Regions from separate parts of the Homo sapiens genome. Here region 1 is linked to region 2. The links come from fine-mapping of genetic effects on gene expression. A gene starts in region 2. The other region holds a variant in brackets. All regions are shown on one strand. Distances are between the middles of the regions. Region 1 has its middle 73 kb from the start of LINC00609. Region 2 holds the start of RALGAPA1 (Ral GTPase activating protein catalytic subunit alpha 1).

The links.
Region 1: its variant is fine-mapped to the expression of RALGAPA1 in cerebellar hemisphere (GTEx, PIP 0.99).

Annotation. Positions count from the first base shown.
Region 1 is chr14:35,995,033-36,000,417 of GRCh38, forward strand. No RefSeq gene overlaps it. Among named protein-coding and RNA genes, the nearest start is that of LINC00609, 73 kb to the right of the region's middle. The variant A/G (reference allele first, on the strand shown) is at 2,084.
Region 2 is chr14:35,807,183-35,812,567 of GRCh38, forward strand. It overlaps RALGAPA1 (Ral GTPase activating protein catalytic subunit alpha 1), which reads right to left and starts at 2,113. Exons shown (of 42, transcript NM_001346249.2): 1 at 1,548-2,113. The coding sequence starts at 1,653. RefSeq lists enhancers at 1,763-2,323, 2,160-2,259 and a silencer at 1,840-2,079.

The sequences.
Region 1 (5,385 bases), 190 kb after region 2:
TGTTTTTCCTGGCTGGGCGTGGTGGCTCATGCCTGTAATCCCAGCACTTTGGGAAGCCGAGGCAGGTGGATCACCTGAGGCCAGGAGTTTGAGACCAGCCTGGCCAACCTGATGAAACTCTGTCTCTACTAAAAATACAAAAATTAGCTGGGTGTGGTGGTACGCACCTGTAATCCCAGCTACACAGGAGTCTAAGGCAGGAGAATTGCTTGAACCCGGGAGGTAGAGGTTTCAGTGAGCTGAGATCATCCCACTGCACTCCAGCGATAGAGTGAGACTCAGTCTCAAAAAAATAAATAAATAAAATAAAATAAAAAAGTGTTTTTCCTTTTGAGAAAGGAGAGACTGTTTATGTATTACTTCAGGCATTGGGATGATGCCATCCTGGGATGCGAGAAACTCTGAGATGAAAGAACAAAATGGGTCAGGTGTGGTGTCTCACTCCAGTAATCCCAGCACTTTGGGAGGCTGAGGCGGGCAGATCACTCCAGGTCAGGAGTTCGAGACCAGCCTGGCCAACATGGTGAAACCCCATCTCTACAAAAAATACAAAAATTAGTTGGGTGTGGTGGCGTTTGCCTGCAGTTCCAGCTACTCAGGAGGGTGAGGCAGAAGAATCGCTTGAACCTGGGAGGCAGAGGTTGCTGTGAGCTGAGATTGCACCAGCCTGGGTGACAGAGCGAGACTCTGTCACACACACACACACACACACACACACACACACACACACACACACACACAAAATACAGGATGGTTTGAGACATGGGATATCGTTGGAGCTAACGAGAGAGAGTGTGATTAGAATACCTAGAGTACAACCAGAGAGTCACAAGAAGAGAAAAAAGAAAGGAAGATTTGGAAAAGTTAAAGATTCTGCTAGGAATTGTAGTGTAGCTGTGAGAAACTGAACAAGTTAGAGTAGACTTATCAGTAGATGTCTGGAGGAACCAAGTAGAATGATTTATTTTATATGCCTAAGAAAATGGCTGTAGAAAATAAATACAGGAAATAGGAGTCAGGATAGAATAGGGAGTCATCCTTCAAAGGATCCCCCAAGTCCACAAGTTACCAGAGAGAGCGATTTCATCTATTCTGATAGACATGCTGTTTTAGGATGAGAAATTCCCTTAGTGAATATGGCATGTAGTGAGCTATGAACAGCCAGATGGTAAAATTTTAATGTTTATATACTATTTACTTATTTACTCATGCTCTGTGGTTAAAGAGGCTCACATTCTCACTTACTTTTTGCTGTATGTTGCTTCTGTCTCTGTAATTCTTTGTGTGTTAAAATGCAACCTTTTTTCAAGATATCAGTGTCCTTGCCCCTCTAATAAGCTTCCCTAGCTCATAGGAAAGAAAGGGCAATCTTGTGGCTAGAGTTTTGTCTGATGCCATTGGAAAGTATAAACAACAGTTTGGGCAAAGTATTATGAGGAGTCTTTCAGTAACATCTAGTTTGCAGATTTAAATATAATAGGGAATTTTCTTTTTTAAATAAGATTCCCCCCAGCTCTATTAAGGTATAAATGACATGAAATTATATATATTTATTGTATACAATGTGATGTTTTCGTATATATATATGTTGTGAAATGATTAAATCAAGTTAATTAACACATACTTACATTTTTGTGGTAAGAACATTTAAGATCTACATTCTTAATTTTAAAGTTTGTATTATTATTAACTGCAGTCACCATACTGTACAAGAGATCTCCAAAACTTATTCATCCGACTTAACTAAAACTTTGTACCCTTTAACCAACATCTCTTCCCCACCCCCACCATCCCGGCCCTTTGCAACCACCATTCTACTCTCTGCTTCTATGACATTGACATTTTTAGATTCCACATATAAGTGAGATCACGCAGTATTTGTCTTGCTATGTCCAGCTCATTTCACTTATCATCGTGTCCTCCAGATTCATTATGATGTTGCAAATGGCAAGATTTTTTTTCCTTTTCAGGCTGAACCGTATTCCTATGTACATAAATGCCACATTTTCTTTATACATTCATCCTTTGATGGACTAGATTGATTGATTCCATATCCTGGCTATTGTGAATAATGCTGCAGTGA[A/G]CCTGGGAGTGCAGATATCTCTTTGACATAACTGATCTCATTTCCTTTGGATAAATACCCAGAAGTGGGATTGCTGGATCATATGGTGGTTCTATTTTTAACTTTTTGAGGACCCTCCAAACTGTTTTCTATAATGGCTGTACTGATTTTCATTCCCGCCAACAGTGAACAAGGGCCCCCTTTTCTCCATATCCTTGCTAACAATTGTTATCTTTCATCTTTTGAATAATAGCTATTCTAACAGGTGTGAGCTGATATCTCATTGTGGTTTAGATTTGCATTTCCCTGATGATTAGTGATGTTGATAATTTTTTCATAGACCTGTTGGTCATTTGTATGTCTTCTTTTGAGAAGTATCTGATCAGATCCTTTGCCCATTTTTTGATCAAGGTGTTTTTTTCCTTGCTACTGAGTTATTTGAATTCATTATGTATAATTACTTTGGATATTAACCCCTTATCAGATATATGGTTGGCAAATTTGCAACATGTAACAAGCCATACAGGGCAAGGTGGCATCATTGAGTAGTTCTAGGCAAGAATCTTCTGACTCCTTAGCCTGTGTCAGAGTGTGGTTCTAGGACCATCTGCATGAGAATAACCTGTTAGAAGATATATTACACGTGAAAAGCCTTCTTAAAAATGCAGATCCCTAGACCCCAGTCCTGCTGAGCAAAAATTCTTGGGAGTGAGTCTCAGTAATCTGAGTTTGCGAACTTTCCAGATGATAATAATCCACAATAAAATGTGCAGATCCCCACCTTAAGGGAAGGAAGAGGATACAGAATACCTTGCCCCCACTTCTTATTGCAGCCGGGTCTGCTGTGAATTCTCTCGGTTTTGGAGACCACATTTTAAATTCTTGCTATCAAAGCATGGTCCGTGGACCAGCAGCATCGGCATTACCTAGGCATCTGTTAGAAATGTAGCATCGCAGGCCCCATCCCAGACATACTGAATCAGAATCTGCAGTTTAACAAGATTGCCAGGTGATGTGCATGCGCAATTAAAGTCTGATGAGCACTGCCCCGCGTTACGCTAATGTCAAACAGCAGGGAAAGGATTGAGCTGGCAGGTGTAAGGGCTGGGCCCAATAGGTAACTCTCTTTTCCCTCATCTCCCAACCAACTGACAGACCGACCCAGGAATCAGATAGATGGATGATAACAACTTATTATTATTATTTTTTTTAACTGAGAAAGGTTGTATTGGAGAACATGACTTAGAGTCAAGTACAGTTATTAACTCTTCCCGGAATTGAATGTAACCTCCCAAATATCTGGCCTCTTTGGCAGCTCTGCCGCACTAAGCTCTCTACATGGCCGAGGCACCAGACCAGAATGCGCCCTTTCGACAGGCAGAGAGAGCCAAAGGGGAAAAGAGCTGAGTCAAGGCTGCCAAGTTCCTGCTTCCAGCCCTACCAGCCGGTCACTCGCGCCTTGCAATGAGGAAACCAGGAGTCCTATCTAGGTAAGTTGTTCCGCCTGGAAACTCGAGGCCCGAGGAATGGCTGCTCTTTCCTAACATCAGAGGTAAAAACTCTGAGAGCTTTTGTCCCTTTGGAGACCACGGTCACATTAGGCAGGCAGCTCAGCTGGCTTCAGAGTCACTGTGACATAGGGTCTCTGATAATGTCTTATGGAGTCTGGGTGAGTAGCCCCTCTGTCCTACCCAGCGACCTCTTTCCATAACATGCGGGGTCCACAGCTGGCAGGGCTGGAGGACCCCATGGAAATCCAGGTGGTGGCTGCATCTGCAGATGAACTTCGGAAGGCAGGAGCCAATTGGTGAGGTGTACGTTTTTGAGGACAGAGAGCTGCATTTCATCCCTTGCTAAGATCTTGTTACTTTAGAATCTTCCTTCAGTCCATGAAGAAGCTGCTTTTCTTCCAGGTGCAGGTTTCTCACCTCTATTACAAGAAAATGACTCTGAGTTCAGACTGATGGCCTTAATGCCTGATAGTGTGTTGTTAGTGATATGTAAAACCAGGCATTGAACCCCAGTGTGTCTAGCATTGTCTAATCATTTAATTGGCCATAATGATTTTATTATCTGGGTTGTAAAATGGGACAATTGGCAATTTTTTCCAAGTGCTTCCAGGTTGATTATATATGTAAAGGGGAGGAGGTATATAATATCTATACACCCAGTAACTGCTTTTTCAAATTACATTCATTCCTCTTTATTTTATTTGAAAGTGTATGGAGTTCAACATAGTTCAAGGAAAGCATTGTGGTAAACAGCCAGCTTAAATGTGAGCAGTGTAAAGAGCAGCAGCTTGCAGAAATATTGCTATAGATACTAAGGCCGCATCCTGCCTCGATACGGACCACACATAATTGAATCATGTTCAATAGAAGGCCATTACAAAACCGAACATATTTGCAATGCTAATGTGGGGAAGACAGCTGTCACAGGGAATTAAATATGATCATTCAGAGCTTGAATAAATGAGGTGTCCATTATCTTCTGGCTGTGTTGCAGGCTGCTTGAAGAACACAAATAAATGATACTGTTGCAGTAACCAGCCCATGGTTTTGTGTTTTAGTCATAGAAATATGAGAGAGATGGAGGTGCGTGGCGGGGAGGGAGACAGGGATATAGAAAAAGGCTTGGCAGATAAATATAGGCAAGAGTTTTATGCCCCTTCCCCCAAGAAACCGTGAATGCACAGACATAAAACTCTACTTTTGATGCCTGAAATAGATTTTAATTCTATTAAACATTTTTGTCAAGATTCATCCTTTCTAAGACTCAAATCACAGCCAACTCACAAAGGAGGCTGAATGTTGAAAGGGTAGAGTGGGGAGTAAACAAAGCTAATCCTTTTGTCCCTTCCCCAAGGCCTTCCTTCCCATCCAAATGGATAATAAAGATAACAGAGAACTTCTTCATGGATAATCAATCTGCCAATGAACATAAAAGGTACTTGGATCAGTGCTGGTTTTAAAAATGCCATTAATTATCCAATTAACAGAAAGGGAGGCTTCCTTTGATTGGATCTGAGGAAACTATCTACAAATCAGTTTTCTTATGTTAATAACAGATACTAAGCTGTCATCTTTTGATGAACACGTAAGAAAGTTCGGAACAATCTTAAAAAAAAAGCACTTAAAGATATGACCATCCTTGTTTCCTGAGGAATATCTGATACACGTAATGCTAGAGCATGGTTTATTAGTCTGAAATTACATGACACTGTGATTGAGAGAGAAAACCCAACCCTCTATGAGCAGTGGTCTTTCTTTATGAAAGACAGCTACTGGTGCAAAATGATCCCTTGAAAATAAACAAGGTCTGTG
Region 2 (5,385 bases):
CCAAGTAGGTGTCAAGCTCCATTAAGTGTTCAATTTCAAACTGCCATTACCTGTGAATCCCTCGCCTGCATTCACACATTAACTTACTGTGTCCTATTCTCGGCTAAATCTTTATTTCAATGGCTTAACTCTCAAGAAGAATGAAAACAAAAAGATCACAATCTCCACTATATTTAGAAGCTTTACATTTTCTTGAAAACTGAGCTTTTTATAGCGCTAAACTGGATTAACTGCTTTCTTACTACTCCACTGGAATAAATACAATTTACTTGTGACAAAGATTAGCTGTCATAAATGTAGAAAGAGTAAAAAAACAAACTAGAGACACAAAATCTGGGTTCCAATTCTGACTCAGCCTCCTGGTAGCTGGCTGACTACTCGATGTTCCCAAACTTCAGCTTTTTTGTTGGTAAAAAATGGAGAATAATATCATCTACCTATAGAGTTATTGCAAGGATTATCATAATTTACGTGAAATCACTGTAAACAGTAAAGCATCATAGAAATGTTGGGTAATATTGGTGGTATCCTGGTGGTATGAGTAAACAATAGACTAGAGAAACATGTACCTCAAATAAGGGACTTACTTTTTTCACTAAATAAACATCACTTTCCAAAACAAATACGCATCAGGAGGACAGCTCGAGATAAACTCTGAACTAGGATTCAGGCATCTGGATGAATGCATCTTCTTCAGCCAGTTCCACCATTAACTCTAAGTATCAACACAGGCGAAATAATTTTCCTTTTCATCTCAAATGTCTTCATCTAAAAAATCCAACTACTGGACCAGATGTTCCATAAGTATTATTACAGCCTTTATCAGCCTACCAAATGACTAAGTATTCAAAAGAGTCGATTAACATTATATTCAAAACTTAGAGCACTGTTTGGTCTACCAGCAAAACAGAACTTAAGGGCAGACGATAAAAAAAATATTTTTAATTAAAAATAGAATTATATACAATTCTCGAGAAGCAAAGGATGAGTTAAACTACCTATAATAGTTCTCCCTCTAAATGACTAGTGATGAACAAGGTGCATTAACAAAAGGGCGGGGCTCCTTCCCACAGCTTTTTGGGAACCGCCCACTTCCCAAAGAGGTGTAACTGCTACCTCCTTGTCTTCATCTGCCAAGAAACTTGAAAGATTAAGGTTTATATTGTCTGAGAGAGGATTTTATTTTTCTTTTTACTTGGGTGGGGTTGGCAGTAGTCATCTGGCAAACATATCCTATAAACACCATTATCCACAACGCCAGGTCTCCCCACAAAGTCTTAAAGATCTAAGTTTTTAGAGTAATACCAATTTTAAAAAATAAGTTCAGACTATTAACTCAAAATTAGATTACTGTGTTAACAGTAATCAGTGCTGCCAACTGCCAAGTTTTCGCTTCTCCGAATTATTCACCCTCCCGCGTCTCCGCAGAGGCTACGATTTGCCCTCTCCTGCACCGCGCCAGGTCCCGAGAGAGAGTCCGCAGGGGCTCCCAGGAGAGGGAAGGCCGGGCAACCCAGGCCTCGGCGCTGCCACCCCTCGCTCCTCACCGATGACGATGCGCAGGTGCTTGAGGCGAGTCAGTGCGTCCTTCTTGGTGTCTAGCACCTTCTGGGTGGACTTCTTCACGTCCCCGTGCGGCTTCTTGGAGAACATCCTGTCGCTGCCACTGCCACTGCCACTGCCACAGCCGGCTCCCAGCCGGGTCCCGGCGGCAGAAAGTGGAGGGAGTGGACGGGGAGGAGACTAGCCAGAGAGGCTCATTAGCTCCCCAGCCTTGCGGGCCAGGGCAGAGCCGACTCCTTCCCGATCCAGGCCAGGGCCGCCACCTCCACCCGCCTCGCGCCGCGGCTCCAAGGCACCTTCGGCCCCAGCTCCAATATGGCGGATCCCTCTCCCGGCCCTGCACGGAGCGAGGCAGACCCGGGCTGGCCGCCTGCCGCCGCCGCTCGTCTCCAGCGGCCGCCGCTCGCCGCCACAGGCCGGGGCCCCGGACCCAGAGCCACGAAGGTGGAGCTCTCGGCGGCAGGAGCACAACTCTCTCCCTGAGGCCCCCTTAAGGTTGAAGCTTCTTTAGCAGCTTACACCCTGCAGAGGCCGAAACGGAGACGAGTGTGGTAGTGATGGGGTTTCACGACTCTGCCGTCGGTGGCGAACGGTGTCCGTGGCAACCGCCTTCTGACGTCAAGAGTTCTTGACGTCATGCCAGCATGAGATCACCCGTGGCACTCCCCGCCTTGGTTTCCTGTGTAAGCAGCCAAAGGAGAATCTCAAGAAAGGCAAGGAAGGTAGTTACTGCGTGCTCCATTGTAAGCCAAATGATAGTAATAAGCAAAGAGAAGTAATCTTTATTAAATATGTCCATGATTTATCTTTGAAAATGTGCATAAGTTGTTGTGGCCACCAGATCCTCTAGCAGAAAGATAAACGAAGTTACAGTTGGGCAATTTATTCTGTCCTAAATCTATTACTAATAATATTTCCTGCACTATGTATGTGATTTCTTTCATATTTTTTCTATTTGCAATATCCCTGTTTTTTGCTGCAAACAACTTGACAACAGAAAGGCTTAAGCAGAGGTATCTAGGTTTTTTAAATAAAAGTAATCTTGCTTTCCTTTTCTATTGTGCTTTTAAAAATCTTTTCCCCATCTGCACCCCACATAAAGATGAATATATTGTCAGTTTTTCCTCTGCAAAGAAGAATTCAAGGTTCTTATTACATTGATGGAGTCATCTGAAGAATCTGCAATAGCTGAAAAAAATCCGTGAAATTCTGAATGACATAAATTGAAATTTTTATTGGAACCCTTTTTTTTTTTTTCCTTTTTCCTTTTCTTTCCAGACAGGGTCTCTGTGTCCCAGGCAGAAGTGCAGTGGTGTGATCTCAGCTCACTGAAGCCTCGAACTCCCAGGCTCAGGTGATGCTCCCACCTCAGCCTACCGAGTAGCTGGGACCACAGGTGCGCGCCACCACATCCAGCTAATTTTTGTGTTTTTTGTAGAGACGGGGTTTCGCCATTTTGCCCAAACTGGTCTAAAACTCCTAGACTCAAGTGATCCGCCCGCCTCAGCCTACCAAACTGCTGGGATTACAGGCGTGAGGCCACTGCGCCTGGCCAGGAACATTTCCTCCACAAAATAATTTGATAAAGAGTGAGTTTGCTTGTTTGAACTGTTTCCTTCTATGTTCTCACCCATAGCAATAGACTTGTCCAATGAAATATGTGATTAACATAGAAAAATAACAAAATCAGCAAAGAAGAGAGATGTAAGACATTTGCCAAAATTATGTTAAAATATAGTGCTTTGCTTAATGGTAGTTTGTTTCAACAACAATCCTATATTTTTTAAAGTACAAAAAATTTATTCAGTTTCTACATGTAGGGTTTGTTTGTATCATCAAACTTACAAGCCATACATGTTTTGAGGAAGCTTATAACATAATAGAAAAATAAGGGGATTGTTCAAGAGATTTTAGTTCTAGTTCCTCTCAGCATCAGTTTTCTTATTAATAAAATCAAAATAAGGTCTGTCCCTCACAGTTTCGTGAAATTTAGGCAATAATACAATGTTTTCAAGCATGATCTTTAGAATTACATAGACCTAAATTAGACATTCTGTTTTTCACTTGCAAGGACTTACTTGCTCTCGGGCCCTTGGCATGTAGTTCAGTCTCAGCCTGATTTTCCTCATTTGTAAACTACATCAGTGATTGTGATAATTAGGTGAGAAAAGTATTGAAAGTTACATCTATAATGACACATCTCATAACATTCCTTTCCTTCATAGAATTTAAATACAGTAATTTGTGTAACTGTTTACAGATTCTCTCTTTCATGAGACTGTAAACTCCCTGAGGACAGAGACTGTATAGATTGTCTAAAGTTGTATCCCAGTCTTCTTGCAAAGTGCTCTTTGCAAGATAGGCTCAATAAATCTGTGTCGAATAGAAGAACGAATGTCACTGTCCCTTCCTTTCTCTTGCGCAAGTACTCAGTAAATGTTTGGCAAATGAGTGACATAATTTTAGAGAATAAAAATGTAACATATCGTTAAAAATAATTATATGGCTGGTATACCTGAGAAAAAATGAAAACACCATTGCAAAACAAACTAGTATAATGTAATTTACATATGGCACACCCATCCCACTGCCTGGTTTTTCTCTTCCCATTGATTTAAATATTAAAATTCTTTGAAAGATAAGTCTTCCCCACAGCAGACATAATTATCATGGAAATAAAACCCAGAAATATACCTTTGAAATATTGCTTGTGAGGGCCAGGCACGGTGGCTCATGCCTGTAATCCCAGCACTTTGGGAGGCCGAGGCAGGCGGATCACAAGGTTAGGAGAGTTCAAGACCAGCCTGACCAACATGGTGAAACCCCGTCTCTACTAAAAATACAAAAAAATTAGCCAGGCGTGGTGGGGCACGCCTGTAATCCCAGCCACTCAGGAGACTGAGGCAGGAGAATTGCTTAAACCCAGGAGGCGGAGGTTGCAGTAAGCCAAGATTGCACCACTGAACTCCAGCCTGGTTGACAGAGTGAGACTCTGTCTCAAAAAAAAAAAAAAAAAAAAAAAAAAAAAAAAATATATATATATATATATATATATATATATTGCTTGTGAGAACTAGATTTTTTTTCTTTTAGTGACTGGGTCTTGCTCTGTCATCCAGGCTGGAATGCAGTGGTGCAGTCACAGCTCACTTTAGCCTTAACTTCCTGGACTCAAGCAATCCTCTCACCTCAGCCTCCCATGCAGTTGGTAACACAGGCAGGTGCCAAAAAGCCCAGCTAATTAAAAAAAAATTTAGTAGATGGCCAGGCGTGGTGGCTCACTCCTGTAATCCCAGCACTTTGGGAGGCCGAGGCAGGTGGATTACCTGAGGCCAGGATTTCAAGACCAGCCTGACCAATATGGAGAAACCCCTTCTCTATTAAAAATACAAAATTAGCCAGGAGTGGTGGCGCGTGCCCATAACCCCAGCTACTCGGGAGTCTGAGGCAGGAGAATCACTTGAACCTGGGAGGCGGAGGTTGCGGTGAACTGAGATCGTGCCATTGCACTCCAGCCTGGGCAACAAGAGCGAAACTCCATCTCACAAAAAAAAAAAAAAAAAAAAAAAAAAAAAATTTAGTAGAGACAAGGTCTCACTATTTTGCCCAGGCTGGTCTTTAACTCCTGGCCTCAAGGGATCCCCCTACCTCAGCCTCCCAAAGTGTTGGGGTTACAGATTACAGGCATGAACCACCACACCTGGCCTACACACAAATGTTTATAGCAATTTTATTCCTAACTCCAAAAACTAGAAGCAACCAAGATATCTTTCAGTAGTTAAATGAATAAACATACTGTGGTACATCCATACAATGGAATAT